Linked DNA regions of Homo sapiens. The protein of the gene in region 1 purifies or fractionates together with the protein of each later gene. This does not show direct contact. Each region holds a gene or a part of one and is shown on either strand. Other genes may lie near its edges.

Region 1 (7,872 bases):
CACCCCTTGAAGGGCATCTGAGTTGTTTCTAGTTTTTGGCTATTATGAACAAGCTGTTATGTAGGTTTTTGTATGCAGGTTTTTCATTTCTTTGGGATAAATGCCCAATAATGTAATTGCTGGGTAATAAGGTAGTTATATGTTTCAGCTGCCATACTTTTGGCTATAACATTTTACATTTCTAGCAGCAATGTATGAATGATCCAACATCCTCATCAATATTTGATGTTGTCACTTTTTTATTGTAGTCATTCCAATAGTTGTGTAGTGATACACTGTGGTTTTACTTTGCCTTTTCCTAATGGATAATGATATTGAATATCATTTCATGTGCTTAGCCTCCCGAGTACCTAGGACCAGAGCCATGTGCTACCACCCCCAGCTAATTTTTAAAAATTTCTTTTGTAGAGAAGTGTTCTTGCTATGTTGTCCAGGTTGGTCTGGAACTCCTGGGCTCAAGGGATTCTCTCGCCTCCTCCTCTCAAAATGCTGGAATTACAGGCATGAGCCACTCTGCATGGCCAGTGGTATTGTTTTAATTTTGGTGTTCATGTGTCTGTTGGTAATATATAGAAATACAATTGATGTAATTTTATCTTCTGCCCTGTAACTTTGCTGCATTCATTTATAGAAGTTCTCTCTCTCTCTTTCTTTTTTCTTTTTTCTTCCTTCTCTACCTTTGTTCCTCCTCTTCCTCCTCCTCCTCCTCCTTCTCCTCCCCCTCCTCCTCCTCTTCTTTCTGTAGATTTTCTGGGATTTTCTACACAATCATGTCACCTGGAAATAGGAAGTTTTATTTCTTTTATTCTCTCTTGTGTCACTTTTGTTTTCCTTTTTTTGCCCTTTGCACTGGCTTGAACATCCAGTTTTATGCTAAGAGCATTATTATTAAGAACATTGAGAGTAGACAGCTTTGCCATGTTCCTGTTCTTAGGAGAAAAACATTCAGTTTTACCATCAATGTTAGCGGTAGGCTTTACGTAGATTCTCTCTACTGAGTTGTGAAATTTCCTCTCTATTCCTATTTTTATAAGAACAACTTTTAAAAAAAAAAGATATGTGGTCTTGCTGTGTTGTCAGGATGGCCTCAAACTCCTGGGCTCAAGTGATCTTCTCACCTCAGCCCCACAGTAGCTTGGACTATAGGAGTACCAAACCAACCCAGCTAGAATGAATATTTTAAAATGCTTTAAAAAGTTTTGCATCAGTTGATTTTCTTTTCTTCTTCAACCTATGCGATTTTTCTTTTTTAGCCTATAAATACAGTGGATTATATGGATTGAATTTTGAAGTTTAATCAGTCTTGCATCCTTGGAATAGATCAGTCTTGCATCCTTGGAATAGACCCCACTTGGTCATGGTATGTAATTCTTTATACATATTGCTGAATTCTGTTTTCTAATATTTTATTAAGAATTTTTGCGTCTATATTTATTAGGAATATTGGTATGTAGTTTTCTTTTTTGTTGCTATCTTTGTCTGATTTGGTATCAGGGTATTACTAACTTCATAAAATGAATTGAGAAATCATCTCTCTTCCTCTTTTTCTGGAAGAGATTGTGTAGAATTAATGTTAATTCTTCTTTAAACATTTGACAGAATTTCCCAGTGAAACCATGTAGTCATGGAGATTTCTTTTTTGGGAGTTTAACAATTACAAATTCAATTTCCTTTATAGTTATAGGGCATGAAATTTACTTATTTCATACTGAGCGAGTTGTAGCAGTTTGTGTTTTTTGAGAAATTTGTCCATTTCATCTAAGTTGTCAAATTCAAGTCCATAGCTCTGTTTGTGGGGTTTCCTTGCTATTTTTTTGATGTCTACAGGGTCTGTAATTATATCTTCTGCTTTATTCTTAATATTGTCAATTTTCTAGGAGTGGCAGGCTCGCTGGTTTGTTCTTAATATGTGTATATTTTTAGTTACACAAGTTATATGTTAGTACATTTTTGTTATAGAATTCTAATCATCCAGAGTATGAAATATAAGGAGTAGAGTTCTCTTTCATTATCTTCTGCACCTGTTCCTCTCATCCTCCTTCTTGACTCAGAGGTAAGGAAAGTGAACAGTTTGGGGTATGTCTTCCAGGACTGTGACTCCTACCCCTAAGTAATATTTGGTCACCTGGTGGACATTTTTTCCCTGACTCTTCAAGGATCAGAAGGAGTTTTGATGATGAATCTGGTGGTGGGGGAAGTCAAAGAGGAACAGAGGAAAGCCAGAGGGGGAGGTCAGAGGGAGGAACAAACAGCCATCTTTGTCGGCTACAAGAGGAGGCTCCTTTGATCTAGTGTCCCCACATGTTCCCCACATGAAGGCTATGACTTCAGGGGCAGATGTAGAATGGCCTCTTTTGGTGGGGTACCAGATGAAGGAGTCCACAAGCCTAGCTTCTGGAAAATATCTGATCTTTCAGCAAATTCTGTTGTCTCTTCCTACAAAATACATCCAGAAGATGACCACTATCCATTATTTTCACATCTAACATTGTGATCCAAACCAGTCTCATCTCTCTCCTGGATTATTGCAATAGGCCCACTGTTCTCTCTGATTCAGCCTTTGCCTTCTAAAAGTCTATTCTCAACACAGTTACCAGAGTGATCTTTTCAAATGTAATTTCTCCTGCAAAACTCTGCAAGCTTCCCATGTCACTGAATCTAAAACTAATCAATTATCTAGACCTAACTACCTGTTTACAAGGCAATTCAGCTCATAGGGGAACATCTAGATAACATCACAAGAATACAATTAACCATTTCCAAACTGTGGAAAATTCTAGAAGATAAATTACTCAGTTTTTTCCAACAGGTGAATGCCTTAAAAAGGGAGGGAGAACTGTTATAGACTAAAAGATGTATCAACCAATCACAATGTGTGGACTTTGTTTGGATCTTGATCTCAACAATACAGTTATACAAAGATATTTTAGCATATTTGGAGGAAATTGAGTATGGCTTGGTTATGAAATTATATAAAAGAATTATGATTAAATTCATTTGGTGAGATAATGATATTTCTGTTATGCTTTTTAAAAGTTCATATCTTTGTAGGTACATACTGCTGCATTCAAGGAGAAATGACATAATGTCTGGAATTTGCTTTAAAATACAGCAAGTCCCCCACTCCTCTATCTCAAACACCTAAATAAAAAGAAATGAACAAAAGACTAAAAGTCTGTGTGTGTGGTGGTTGGAACAAGAATGGCAGAATACTGATAACTGTTGAAACTGGATTATGTGTACATGAAACTGCATTCCTATTATACAATTCTCTCTACTTTAGTCTGAAAATTTCTACCACCCAAAAAAATGCTCTTTGGCCCCTCTTTTTTAGGGATTCTTTAAGAAACTGGAGATTTAATCTCATCAGCAAATTTTTACAAGGCTACATTTGCCCTATCTTCATTCTCCTTCTGCCTGGGGACAGTCTGCAGTGCCCTTTCAAATTTGGGCCCATCTTGGTCCTCTGGGTATTTCTACTGCTTTTTTAATGCAGTGATTTCTGGGAGTCCCCCTCATACTTGTCAACTAATAGTCCCACTGGACTGGGGCCACTGCCCCAAATAAGGTGTCTCTAATTTTAGATTGGAATCAGGAAGATCCAGATGGGTTGCCACTTATAACTGGTATACATTTCAGCCCATGAGCAGAGATGTGCAGGAAATAGTATGCAATTTTCTTATGTAACTCCATTTAATTTGTAATTTAAGCCTTGGTTCTGTTGATGTCCTCTTTGGATTTCCACCCCTCCCTATTTGGAAATCATACAGGGCTGAGGTTTTGAGGGTGGGGTGAGAGCATAGTCTCTGGTTATTGGAGCATACAGCTGAAGTTTAGATGCCCATCAGCTCAGCTGCCAGGGAGTCTTTAGGTGGTGTGGCTCCTATGCCATGTGTGAGATAGGTCGCCATGATTCTGCCTGTACGCATAATACAGGCAGCCCTTCTTGAAGTTTTTGCCACATGTACCTCTTCAGCCACATTTTAGAGGGCTCCTCTCCTCCATAGTTTGAAGATCCCTCTCTCTCTCTGACCTAATCAGTACCTCTCAACACTATAGTAGAGCAAGAAGGGGGCATGCCTAGTTAAAAAAAATCCTGCTTCCGTTATGTTTCTGCTAACTTTCCTCTTTCCTACAGAGTTTGAGATTTTAGAAATAAAAGTCAGGTGGGGTGTGGTGGCTCATGCCTACAATCCTAGCACTTTGGGAGCCTGAGGCAGGAGGATAGCTTGAGGCTAGGAGTTCAAGACCAACCTGGGCAACATACTGAGACCCTGTTTCTCAAAAAAAAAAAAAAAAAAAAAAATTAGCCGGGTGTGGTGCCTCGTGTCTGGTGCCTGTTGTCCCAGCTACTCGGGAGGCTGAAGTGTGATGATCACTTGAGCCTAGGGGCTGAAGTGACCCTATGATCACACCACTGCAATCCAGCCTGGGCAACAGAGAGAGACCCTGTCTCTGAACAAACAAAACAAAATAAAAACAACAAAAAAAAAAAAAAGAAAGAAAAGTCAAGATGATTAACATGCTATTGCTGCTTTCAGCCCTGCCATACCCCTCCTCTGAGCAATGAACACAAAGCCTGCTACCTGCTTGAGTCCAGAAGGGAAAGGGTGAAAAAAAAAGAAGAAAAGAAAAAAATTAAACAGAACATGTTAACATCTCAAAATATTCTGCCACATTTGAAATACGGGAGAGTTGAATTCATTAGAGGACTTCTATTGGAAAAAAGGAATTGTTTTTGAAAATGATGTCTCTGCAGTTGCACAGACTGTGTTGGACCTAGGTCCGTAGAACGCCGTGATGTCATCATTGATGTCAGAGAATCTGCGATGGGCCTGGTGACCTTTGAACCTTAACAGCCCTGCAGTGTAGTGGGCACTGGGCAGTGCTGCTCCTTCACTAAGCGGTCTGAGTTCTTTAGCTATCTCGGAGATTCAACTACGTTTACTCGTACTGAATCTTTTTAATGAATTTCCTGAGAGCCAAGAAGGGCCAATCTACAGGAAAAAGTGGGAGGTGGACATTAAGCATCTTCTAGAAACTCTTCTAGCTGATATCATGAAACGACGACAAAAGAGGAAACATTTGGAAAATGAAGAGTCCCAGGAAACCGCTGAGAAGGGAGGAGGTATGTGCGGGGCAAACTTTCTGGGGCACAAGCGTCACTGGCCAGCCTGAGCCGCCTTCTTTTTCTTTTTTGAGACGGAGTCTCGCTCTATCGCCCAGGCTGGAGTGCAGTGGCGCGATCTTGGCTCACTGAAAGCTCTGCCTCTCGGGTTCACGCCATTCTCCTGCCTCAGCCTCCCGAGTAGCTGGGACTACAGGTGCCCACCACCACGCCCGGCTAATTTTTTGTATTTTTAGTAGAGACGGGGTTTCACCGTGTTAGCCAGGATGGTCTCGATCTCCTGACCTCCTGATCCGCCTGCCTCGGCCTCCTTTTTTTTTTTTTTTTCGTTTCTGAGACAGAGTCTTGCTCTGTCGCCCAGGCTGGAGTGCAGTGGTGTGAGCTCGGCTCACTGCAAGCTCCGCCTCCCAGGTTCACGCCATTCACCTGCCTCAGCCTCCCGAGTAGCTGGGACTATAGGCGCCCGCCACCACGCCTGGCTAATTTTTTTTTTTTTTTTTTTTTTTGTATTTGTAGTAGAGACAGGGTTTCACCGTGTTAGCCAGGATGGTTTCGATCTCCTGACCTCATGATCCACCTGCCTCGGCCTCCCAAAGTGCTGGGATTATAGGCGTGAGCCATCGCTCCCGGCCAGCCTGAGCCTTCTTTAGGGAGGAGAAACTGAGGAGAATGTACCACCTATGCAGTAGGGAGGGGAAGACCTGGCTGTTGGCTGATGCCCGCACATCCATCTTGAGGGTACCCAGATGTGAGACGGACAGGAAGTTCAGATGCCACTGGCACACAGAAAGCCAACCCTGCTGGGCTGAGAACTTTTGCTCTGGGGCTGCTGGTACCTGGAACTATGCCAGTCTCAGGCAGGCGGGGGACCCACTTACAAAGACCCAGTGATGCAGCCTGAGTCTCATCTTTCTCTCGTATTCTCTTTATTTGCTCTTTCTCTGGGGTGACTGAGGTGGAAGGTGTGAAGGGTGCTGGTAGAAGTCTATGATTTGCACTACACCTTTTAGCAGAAACGAGAGTAGCCCAATGAGTTAAAGGCCTTGTTGAAAAATATCTTGAGAAGTGAAATGCTTGTTAGAAAGTAGATTAAACACTTGTTTAGGGATGGCGTCATAGTGAAACCACGGAGGTTTGATTGCTTCAGCGGGAAGAATTAACCAATTAATCCAATAGAGTTTGTGAATCCACAGTGTGGGACTTCCCAGAGGAAATGAAGCACAGGGTAAGGGCCTCAGATCGCTGTCAATTTACTTCCCAGGCTGCATGATAATGGCATGTATTAAATGTAAACAAGCCACTTATCCTGAAAGGGGGATGCTCACATGCAGGAGACAGGGCAGAAAGGAGCCTGCCCCAGAGATGGCCCTGGAGGCTTCTGCCCCGATTAGAGCTCAGCAGCGCCTATGAGGCATAAAGACCTGTAGGTTGAGCCCTGGGAATGGAGGCGTGGAGAGTAGGCATGGAGAGCAGGGGGCTGGGACAGGAAGGGGAAGGCAATGGTTTTCCTCTCCTTCATCTACCCTTACATTTCAGAATGTTTTGTCTGCCTGTGTGTGTGTCTGTGTGTGCACATGTGTGTGTGTGTTGGGAGGGGGAGGACTGGAGATAATGGGAGCACAGTGGTGGGGTCTGCGGGGTGAACTTCCTATCACCATGCCTGGGCCTGGGCAACACTCAATACACATAACAGTGTATACCGAATTTTTGTTAAGGGTATTCCAGGAGACAGTCACTCATATGCCCATATATACTCTGATACAGAGAAAGAGTCACACACCTCCACACACAGTGGATATAGTTATATACACATACCGTTCCTCTATTACATACTCACACAACCCATGTGTGTGACAGTCTTTTCTTCCTACAGAGATTTCTTGTGTGTGGGGAGTGTGTGTGTGTGTCTCCTCAACTCTCACACAAACACATCTATGTTAAACTATCTCTAAATACCTCTTTAAGAGCCAGTCACACATCATACATGCCATATCTGCAACACATTGTGTAGCAGAGCCAGGCCTGCTTTGCATAGACCACAACGAAACAAAGATTCACCACCATCCCCTTATTAGGGTTGCCGGATAAAATACAGGATGTTCAGTTAAACTTGAATATCAGATAAACCACCAATGATTTTTTAGTATAAGTGTGTCCCAAATATTTTATGGAACATACTGACACTAAAAATAAGTATGACAAATATTGCACGGGACATACTTACGCTAAAAAAATTATTTGTAATTTATCTAAAATTCAAATTTAACTTGGCATCAGCTATTTTTGTTTGCTAAATCTGATGACCCTTATAAATTCATAATGAGCTGACCTATGATATACTTATATATTTCTGCTTAATGTCTGTCTTCCTTGTCTAGAATGGAAAGTCCACTTAGAAGAAGGACTGTTTTGTTCAGTATTCCTAGAGCCTAGAAGAGTGGACTGGTGTCTGATTCATGGTAGCTGTTCATGAAAATATTGCCAGATGAATGAATTAATGTACATTATAAATACAAGCCACACCATACAATCAGGAAAAATTACATATTGCATAATTTCAGGGTTGTAAACACAAAACTATGCACACAAACTCCACAGACACAGACACATGTTTCTACAATATACCCACACAAATCTACACATATCAAAGGCTATCTGGTATGTATCACTCTTACGCTTCAGACGTACTCATAGTCACCACACAGGCCTATGTTCCTATTGATACACTATCAAAATACCTGTTG
Region 2 (6,994 bases), about 30 Mb from region 1:
TAAATAAAGTAAGGGAATATAACTATCTTCCCTCCAACTCTGTGCTTTGGTATCCTTATATGCAAAATGGAGACAGGATGTACTTCACAGGGCGCTGATTAGGCAAATACATGTAAAGCACTTAGAATAGTGCATGACACTCAGCAAATGATGGCTAATACTATCAATCTCTGGGTTTAAAAGGGTGATATAACAAGAGGAGCACCATGGCTTAACTGCATGAAAGCAAGAAAATCAGGTTGAGGTCTTGGCTCTATAAAGCTTACCAATTACCAACATGCCTTGCCTTGGGCAGCCCCACTCTTTTCTGAAACAGTTAACTGTTTCTTATTACTGTTATGAGGAATAAAAGAGATGACATATATTAAGGATTCTGAAAACTAGTTTGCAAAATGGTGATTTTTCTAACACATAAAATCCTTTCACCTTAAATTAGCTGACATTCAAGTTAGAGCTTTCTCTTCTCTCCATTTTTAAGTCAACATGGAATCATGGTATCTTATTCAGTGAGTTGTAACGTTGCTACCAGTTTATTTTGATAATTGACACAGATTTAGCAAGTATAATCCTTCAAGTGGCTCCTGTGCCCTTTTGACATGTATCCACCTTTTTGTTGTTGTTGAGACGGAGTCTCACTGCAACGCCCAGGCTGGAGTGCAGTGGCACGATCTCAGCTCACTGCAACCTCCATCTCCCGGGTTCAAGCGATTCTTCTGCCTCAGCCTCTTGAAAAGCTGGGATTACAGGCGCCCGCCACCACACCCGGCTAATTTTTGTATTTTTAGTAGAGACAGGGTTTCACTATGTTGGCCAGGCTGGTCTTGAACTCCTGCCCACTTCGGCCTCCCAAAGTGCTGGAATCACAGGCGTGTGCCACTGCTCCTAGCCAACCACTTTTTTTTTTTTTTTTTTTTTTAGATTTCCTTTGTGGCACCATAATAGAATGTTCCAGGTTCATCTCATATTTCTCCATCCCAGGAGCCATTATTACTCTACTTTTGAGTATGTCCTCAAAACTGGTCTAACAAGTCATTTCAGAAAATAATTTCACTTCAACAATACACTGTTTGTTGATTCAACACAAACTGCATGGGCTGCTTAGATCAATTTACACTTGGTTCATCGCCATCTTTGGCTGTTTCAAACATACACTGCTAAAAAAAAAAAAAGATTGTCATTAAGAATATTACAATAGAAATGGAAGTTTTGAGGAGGAAGAAAATCCCCCAAAATGTAAGCAATGGTAATAATGCATTTAAAGTATAGTCTCACAAAGTCTCACTTAAGAGAGCAGCACACCCAGGACACACATATTGATCTGCTGACACCACTTCTTTACTATACTTCATATAGATGTCCTCACATCTTGATTTACATGGTTATAACTGCTTAAAAACTGGCAAAGAGAAAACCTAAAATAATGCTTTATACCAGTTTGAGTCAGAACCAGACTGTTCCAGACTAGTTGGAAAACGACCCAGGAACTCACCTGCATTAAATGCTGAATTTAACTGAGCTAAAAATGTCTAGGCCATCCCTTCTTAGAATTCCCATGACTCATTCTAGTCAAAAGCTATAAGAACATATTCCTTAATAGTTCAGCAAACTTTAGGGAAAACTAGCTCATTGTCTTGGGTTCTAAAGTCCTTTTGTTTGATTATTTTTATTATAATGAAATTAAACTTATGACTATTACAGTATGCTCAGCTTAAAACATTTATGAGTACTGCAAGGACTAACAGAAACAGGAAAAATCCTACTAAAAATATTTGTTGATGGGAAATCATTGTGAAAGCAAACCTCCAAATATTCATTTGTAAGCCATAAGAGGATAAGCACAACCATATGGGAGGAGATAACCAGTCTCTCCCTTCATATATATTCTTTTTTATTTCTTGTTATACCTTCCCAAAACAGAGACATTCAACAGTAGTTAGAATGGCCATCTCCCAACATTTTAAAAAAACTGCACCCCCCAATGGGTGAACAAAGTAAAGAGTAGTAACCTAGAGTTCAGCTGAGTAAGCCACTGTGGAGCCTTAAGTGGTGAGGTCTTCCAATTTCAGAGTGATGTGTCTTCAACTTGTATCATCATTTTAGCGGAAAAACATAATTTAATTTTGGTGAAATGAGATTCATCTCGTAACAGGATTAGTAACAGCATTCACTGAATTTCACACTCTTCTTTTGTGAACAGTGAAGAAAATGAATGGTAGCTAGAAGATCAATGGGATTCCAGCTCCAGCTGCAGATGGAATGACGATATACCAGGACAAAAAACACCTATATTTTGATTTACAAAGCTAACAGCAGTTTTAAATCTGCAACTTAATTACAGACCAACTACACCACAACCTTTTCAAATGGCAAAAATACAAAAAAGTGTTACAAAAATATTTCAGAAAAAGTGCATAGTCTAAGTGCATAGTAAATAAAAGCACTGAAAAATATCTTGCTAGAGGGAGTTCAGCTTGGAAGTTATTACCAAAGCTAAACATTTTTATTTTACACAAACTATACTCAAAAATAGCTTTATGAGACTGATTTCTGGCTAAAAGTATCAAAGGGTTTATTAGTCAAGAAACAAATACCTCAACCGACAAGGGTGGATAGAAAAGAAACAAAGAAGCTGCCTACCCCAGAAGTTCAGACTTAATAAAATTTCTTCAGTATTACGGTACTAATATCCCTTAATGGCAGAATGTGATAATCATGGAATTAATTATTGCTAAAGTAGTTTTCAAATAAAAAAAAGAAAAAAGAAAACAAAACAAATTAAACTTGACACAATCTGACCAAACACGTGTCAATTTACAATTTCAAGGTTATTTTACAAAATACCTACATTTACACAATAGGCTCCCGGCAGCATTTCCAGACAAATGTTCTTTTAATTTATCCTGACATGCTATAAATGAATAAATTACACTATTTAAAAATTATCATCAGTAAGTTTTCCTTTCTCATGGGTCAGAGAAAAAGAAATGAGCGTGCAAAGAAGATTGAGAGGAAGCGCACGCACACAGATAACTTAAAGAAGCAGGAGGGGCTGGGGAGGGTCAACAATCACTGAACCTCACACAGTGTGATGCTCTCCAAGGGTGAAAGTCAACTGCTTATAGCCATTTCAAAAGTATTTTAAAGAAAAATGTTTTGTAGGGAAACCCTTTAATGCTTTCATTTTTATTCAAAATCAGTCCAGCTGCTAGTCAGCGGGCAGCAGCTACAATACCAAGTTCTGGCAGTTGCAGTACTAGATATTGTGCCTGCAAGTCATAAAAAAAAAAAAAAAAAAAGAAAAAAATGAAAGAATGCCTTTCCCCTTCAGACAAAAGAATTACTTTTTTCATTTTTCTTAAAAAAAGAGGAAAAGTTATAACACGAAACCTAAATTGACTTGCAAAGGAATACCATGTAACAAATGGCTTGAAGTAGTCTATCAAAAAATTGGGGAGATTTTTATTTAATAGTGAGTCAGCAAGGCATTTTTTGTTGTTTAAAAAAAATCTCATTTCCTTACAGAAACAGTTTTTAGTTTTTAATGAACTTGTAAACAAAAAAGCTCCCATTTCAAAATAAAAACAAAATCCCAGATCATATAGATGTTTACAGTGATTACATTTATCTAAGCAACATACATACATGTTCAGTTGTAAGATGTTAACTAAATTTCTGTGACAAATATGCTTTTTTTTTAATACCAAGAACATTATAGAGTTAATGCAGAGTCCTAAGGATAATCTAGTAGTCACTAAGTTTTTCTTAAGTCTTCACTTTAGATGCTGTTATTTCTAGCACAATTAAGCAGGCAGAGTCTTTCATATGCTCAAACACTGGAATCTTTGGTTGCTACCATATCAGCTGGCTTGCAGACAAGAAGCCAACCATTTTAAGAATGTTTTAAGTGAACAACTTGCAAACCCCAGGGATGGAAAAACCCTAAGAATGCACAATTGTGAGCATTTAACAACCATCACAACTGTGGCTGAAGACTGTTCATGCCGTTCTTCTGAAATGAGATCTCAAAGCAGTATAGTTCAAAACAAAAGGTTTTAACAAAAAATTGGCATATGCACAATTTCTCCACCAATTTTTGTGTGTCAACCATTTAGTTAACTTTTCCACTTGAAAAAATGCAATAGAAAACCGGACACCATGTTTCACTATCTCAGTTAATATTCACAATTACAGAGGCTACAACTCAGGATACAGCATCACCAATGCTGCCCAGAGTCAGTTTATACTGAAATTAAGTTCTTTACACCAAGTAAATGGTTGTCCACAACCACTGGCTAGTGTACATATGAACTAAAATTTCTAGATTTGGGGAGAAACAAATGCTGCTCCGATCATCTGCTCTGCTTCTTCTGTTCCTCAATTCATGCTTAGAAACCTGGTAAAAAATCAAAACAAAAAAAAAGTTAAAATTCCAAGTCAAAAATTTTAAATTACACCCAAAATATGGAAATTGGGTGGAACTGAGCCAATAATTATAGTGGCTCATGTTATTTCGTCTCTTGTGAAAAGTATTAGCTCAACTTTTTAAAACAGAAAAACATGAATCTATACTTAAAACTAATTTTTTCTGTTTTGAATGACTCTAGGAAGGAGTGGTACAGTGAATTCAAAGCCTCTCAGCATACTAAAATAATTATTAGTAATTCAAATGAGCATGTTTCTGCATTTTTACATATGCAGAACATATTAGGCATTCACATATTTATCAAATCAATGAAAAACAGATTGCTTTGCTTTAACTAAAGAATACAATTTTAATCCTACCATAGGCACAAATTATTTCTGACACAAATTAAAACGGTTAGCTTTAATAATAAATGCATTCAAAGCATAATTATCTGTATTATTTTACTAAACAAAGACCTGAGAAGCATGTAATTTCTGTAGAGAAACCTTAGACCTTTAAAACTTCTTTACCGGCCGCATTAGAAAGATTGTTTTGTGACTCATTTAAAAATGTAAGCAAGTGATGCTTTTTTGGCTTTATTTACTTCTCAAGCCTACACATTCTACAAATACTTCCCTCCTCCACCACAAGTAGACCCTAGGGCCTCTACATAGGCCCTAGGCCAAGTTTGAATACAAGAAGCCTCAGGTCATAACCACACTTTATCTACAGCTAAAGGCAAAGGGAGAAAATATGCCTGTCCCACAGCAATAGCCTGAAAATCTCTTAAGCACCGTTTTTCCTCTCACCAGACACCCACTCTGAGGCACCAATGCTCCTTTGTCTACCTCCTTACAAATGAGCTAGAAACTATAGCTCATTCTAGCCCACTCCAATCAATCCTCACTTCTTCAGCCCAGGTCATGTTTTCTTCAATCATAAACTGCTCCTTTTCTTTTAGTTCTTTTTTCTTTTTTTTTGGAGACAGTCTCGCTCTGTCACCCAGGCTGGAGGGCAGTGGCATGATCTTGGCTCACCGCAACCTCTGCCTCCTGGGTTCAAGCGATTCTCCTGCCTCAGCCTCCTGAGTAGCTGGGACTATAGGTGCCTGCCACCATGCCTGGCTAATTTTTGTATTTATAGTAGAGACACAGTTTCACTGTGTTGGCCAGGCTGGTCTCAAACTCCTGACCTCGTGATCCACCCGCCATGGCCTCCCAAAGTGTGGGGGTTACAGGTGGGAGCCACCGTGCCCAGCTTCTTTTACTTTTTAAACATTTGTTGGGCCATCTCCCATGGGCTTTGTGGGAGAAACAAAATAATTCTAATATTTATTTCTTATGCATATATGCCCCTTTTTTTTTTTGGGAAATAATAGCGAACATACAAGAGAGTAGGTGCATAATAGATCTTTGTTGCCTGGGTACTAAGTCCATAAGCACCAAATGCCAAAAATGAAAGATAACATAACTTTGAGAATATACTTCACCATAGGGAATATCATTTGATGCATGTTATTAAGAAGTATTAGCGAGGTAAACCTTTCTTTTAAAGGTTGTCAAACCAAACCTTAATAAAAATCTGACTATACCCTGTGACCAAATTTCAATTTTAAAATACAGGAAAAGTTTCAAGCTTCTTGTTTGGGAGTTTAAAAAAGAAAAAAAGTACAATACAGGATAAGCTATGCAGGTTAAGAAACTAAGGATTAAACAGAAATTAAACAGATTAAACAGGATTAAACAGAATTCCCCCATCAGGATTTGGTTTCAAGTCTTGCAATTCTTCTTAAACATGATTTAAAAAACGTATTTTCACAACTACTAAAATTGCTGGGTTTTATCATAGTTTTCTTATGTAATCATATTAAACTAATTGTTATGGTGAATATACCAAATGGCTTTCAAAGGGAAAACCACCATCACTAACAAACTAAAATGGAAACATGCTACATTGTCAGTCAAAATACAAGGAAACTCTTGTGCCTTTAATAGCAAGAAAACTTCAGAATGTATCTGTACATCTTTTGACCTGTTATCTGAGGAATTGCTGAGTCAATAAATGATTACAATTGTTTAGAAACTGGTAAAAGGCTACCCTAACAATATTCCTGGTAGAATAGAGCAGTCAAATCCAGCTTTAACTCTTCAAATGGGTCAATGGTATGACATTCCAGCCAGGGATCAACATTTCTCCAGTGAATTGTCCTAAGATGTTACTGAAGTATGTTTAGGAAAAAACCTCAATAGGAATATTCAACAGGTATTCAACAGTCTTGCAGTACTAAGCATTCTTTTCCCCAATACGCATTGGTCTTTGGTTTTTATCTTGCAGATTAGGTGGCTCATCCAGGCTTCCAAGAGTTCAAGAACCCATCTTCACTGTAACATCAGTTAAAATGAGGAATGAATCCCTTTATTCCTTAAAAAAAAAGGGGAGGGGGAGGGGGGAGTTAAAACAGAGTTGGAGGATGTGATGATTAAGAAGTTAATAGCTTAATTAAATTTCAAATCTGCAAAAAGCAAAAAAAAGTTTATTTTTATATAACTAACAAGGATATTCTATCCCTGCCCGCCACCCAATCTGAAA
Region 3 (3,409 bases), on another chromosome or scaffold:
TTCATGACATACAAATCCCATAAGGCCAACGACCACTCTTCTGGAACACCAAGAGCAGCTCTGAGATCATGCTGGCCCTACGCGAATTGAGTTTCTGTGGCCTAATTGGATTTGGAGAACGCCTTCCCTGGCCCCTTTTCCTCAGACAGATCTGCTCTGATAGGAACCTTTTCAAGAAAGTTACTGTTGTTTCAATGCCACTCCTTACCTGTATAGAACATTTCCAATACATTCGCTCATTGAACTTAATCCTTGCAACTGTGACTGGGGGGTAGATGGCTCTGTTTGCATACGAAGAAATAAAGGCTCCAGGAGGTTAAATCGGGCAACTTTTTAGAACTAAATCAGTCTCTGTAAGGCCTACATTGCTAAGATACCATTTCAGCTCTGAAAATCTGCTTCAGGGAAGTGAGTGGATGAGGCCTTCCTGCCTCAGCTACTCTGCCCGTCTGTACATCTTTTGTGTCTGCCTCCGTACCTTATTCAGTTATTTTCACACTAAAGTAAGTAGAATTAAGACTGTAGTTCAGATGCTTTTTCTTTTTCTGTTGGAAACTGAACACACTACAGACAGTGAAAAAAGGTACATATTCCATTTTCTCATTGCCTGAAGATCTCTGCTGATGCTCCTGGAGAATGACTTTGGGGGCTTTAGAAAGAATATTGCCAGTCCGTCTCGGCAAGGAGATGATGGGAGCGCTTTATATGGAGGCTTTACATGACTTGTAAATTAAATGTGAATGAGGGCAGTTGATTAAAATTGGTATTACAGAAGGGCCCTGCTGAGGTTTGAAAACAGCTGAGCTGCTGATGTCTCAGGCCTTTCCCTGAATTAGCACTGCGGTTCTCCAGGATATCAGCAAAGAGGGCAAGTAATAGAAGCCCCTGATAAGGAGCGTCAGCCGACAGGCAAGCTTGGGAGGCTGTGGGAATGGGTCTGCCCCCAGCTTCACAGACCTCTTCCTCCAGCCTCTGAATCCCATTAGCCACAGCCTAGAACATTAGCTGAGCTGCACAAGCTCACCCACCCCTGTGCCAGGGGGCCCTGACCTCCCTCCATGCCATGTTTTTGGCTGTATCTACGGCACTTAACAATAGGGGCTTTTTATTTTCATTACAGAGATATTTTGAAAAATTTAAAAGACATGAACTCACATAAACAGTTATGGATGATAGTTAAAAGAGAAACGGGTGGAGGTGGATGAGAGGTTGTCTTCATGAATATAATTACTTGAGATTTTTTTTTCTTAATGGAATTAGTTTATTAGAAAATGTCTGTGTTAAATCCGTAGAAAAGGAAGAAAAGTGTAGCAACAAAAATGTAGCCATTATCTAACTTGCCATAAATATTTGCAGTTATGATACCTTGGAATGTTGCCACGATATGGATTGCTTTGATTAAAAGATGTCAGTTGAATAAAACAGTACTGTGGGAGAATCGCTTTCTGCTGCTAGATAAATGCTGATGTTTATTTTTAAACCAGGAAACATTGATCCTGTAACAATGCCCGATTACAATTGCTTTATTACACCCCAGGGCTGATGGAGATGTAATCACTTGGCTAATGGATGTGGGTGCAGGACAGATGCTCGCTTGCTGGCCTGCTTTCCTGCTTGCATTCTGATGAGCTGCAGGAGTGCGCCTGGCCTTCTGCAGGTGGAGCTGCTGTCAGAGCTTCGTTTCACTGATACCCAAAGCCATGTCTGACTGAAATAAAACAGGTTCCCTTTTTTTTTCCCTTTGGAAAATGCCAACTAAGGGAGACTAATCAGATATCTTAACACAATTTCATCCAGGCTTAGTGCTAACAAGATTGCGGGGCTTTTTAGGGTTTAAGAAGATGAGAAATGAGTGTGCACGTTTCACACGTTGACTTGCCGGTTTTTCCATGTCATACAAAAAAGTCCTGGCTGTTTCTCCGAACTGGCTGCCTGCATTCCCGTCTTTCTTTTGTTTTTAAGAAATAGACTGAATTCAGCTGTTAATCCTCTAGTACAGTATCCATGTTAAAATGTTTTTCCATTGCATCTTTTATGTGAATTCAAAGGTCAGAATTTATTGTCTGTGATATTGAGACCATGTGTACAAGAACTACTTTTTGCTTTTCATCATTCACTCCTTAGCAAACGTTTCGTAAGTACCCTCTGTCTGTTTGCTACTATATGAGGTGCTGCGAAATTAGTGGGCGTGGCTTTTTATATTTTTCATTCGTGTGTAGCCTAAGTAAGGTGACTCAAGATGATACACCGAGAGAAAAATGCAAAATATATTTGGTTCTCATTTCTGTTGCTGTCGTTTCCTTTTTAAAGACGATTTATCAACTGCTGCCATTTGGAACTTCCTATAAGAAACTAAAAATGATCTATTTCAGTGTTCCTTTCGCCTTTCCTCTGCTTTCTGAATAAATGGTTTCAGTAACCCATGCTGTTCTCTCCCTATTCTACGTCTTTCTCCCTATGTTGAAAAAAGATTCCCACAGTTTCTGATGTGTGTGTTTATAGTCTTCAATGTATGTTAACATGTTAGGAACTGAGTATCTTAAGAGATGTCTTAGAATGCTTTAGTTTTCATAATTTGTCCTTTATGTATTTTTCATTGTATTTGCTGTTTTGACATGGAAGTAATTTAAAAAGTTGGTGCAGGAAAGGACTCTTTACTGTTGCACATTTTGGTTTTCTGATATGTAATAAATTCATGGCTTGGCAGCTGACATGATGTTTCCCAGAGAGAAGGAGATGTATTTCTGCAGGGTCCAGACCAAAAGAGCCATTTACAGCATGTTCTCCCATGTTCCATTATCAGCCTGATGAAACCTGCCCTGCCAAGGCATAAACTTTTGTACTAGCTGTCTCCATATTATGTTCAATAAATTCTGTGCTCTGAATATATTTAAAGGATGCTTCAGTGTAAAATTATTTTGAATGGATGGCTTAATTCCATTGAGATAGGCTTTGGAGTGTGGACTAGAGCCCGTTGCTCGACTCTCACTGCTTTGTAGGAACATGAAATTGGTTTAAATTAAAATCAGAGACCTTTTGCACCAGAAAACAGATCTAAGAGATCACTTAGGTCAACGTCTTCATTTTACTGATGAGGAAACTTTTGCCCAGAGAGCTTAAGCACAGGGACCAGCTTGCATGTCAGTGTTTTCCTATTGGGGGAAGTGTGTGTCATCAGTGATTTACAAAGGTACCCACCTGTGTAAATTGCTTCCAGCTTTGAAAGGTGGGTGGATTCTGTCTTTTAAGTAGTGGTTGACAGTTCTCCATCTTACAGTGTTACCTTGTTAAAACGTTAATGAAAACAATTTTAACTTCTTTTGGAAAAGTAAGGTGGGCAAATGGTAAGACTTCACACAAGACCAAGGGGTACACAGTATACAAAATCAGGTTTCCTCCATTCCCAAAC

What was found.
Region 2: the proteins of FAM170A (region 1) and CSNK1A1 purify together in Homo sapiens (affinity purification with mass spectrometry; 4 studies listed by BioGRID and IntAct, with this or other methods). This does not show direct contact.
Region 3: the proteins of FAM170A (region 1) and VAPB purify together in Homo sapiens (affinity purification with mass spectrometry; 4 studies listed by BioGRID and IntAct, with this or other methods). This does not show direct contact.

What each region holds. Positions count from the first base shown.
Region 1 is NC_000005.10:119,624,711-119,632,582, forward strand, and holds the start of FAM170A (protein FAM170A), read left to right. Parts: upstream 1-4,847; 5' UTR 4,848-5,058; coding exon 5,059-5,128; intron 5,129-7,872. UniProt on the Homo sapiens protein: Acts as a nuclear transcription factor that positively regulates the expression of heat shock genes. Binds to heat shock promoter elements (HSE).
Region 2 is NC_000005.10:149,492,468-149,499,461, forward strand, and holds the end of CSNK1A1 (casein kinase I isoform alpha), read right to left. Parts: intron 4,394-6,994; coding exon 4,386-4,393; 3' UTR 515-4,385; downstream 1-514.
Region 3 is NC_000020.11:58,448,207-58,451,615, forward strand, and holds the end of VAPB (vesicle-associated membrane protein-associated protein B/C), read left to right. Parts: 3' UTR 1-2,895; downstream 2,896-3,409. UniProt on the Homo sapiens protein: Endoplasmic reticulum (ER)-anchored protein that mediates the formation of contact sites between the ER and endosomes via interaction with FFAT motif-containing proteins such as STARD3 or WDR44.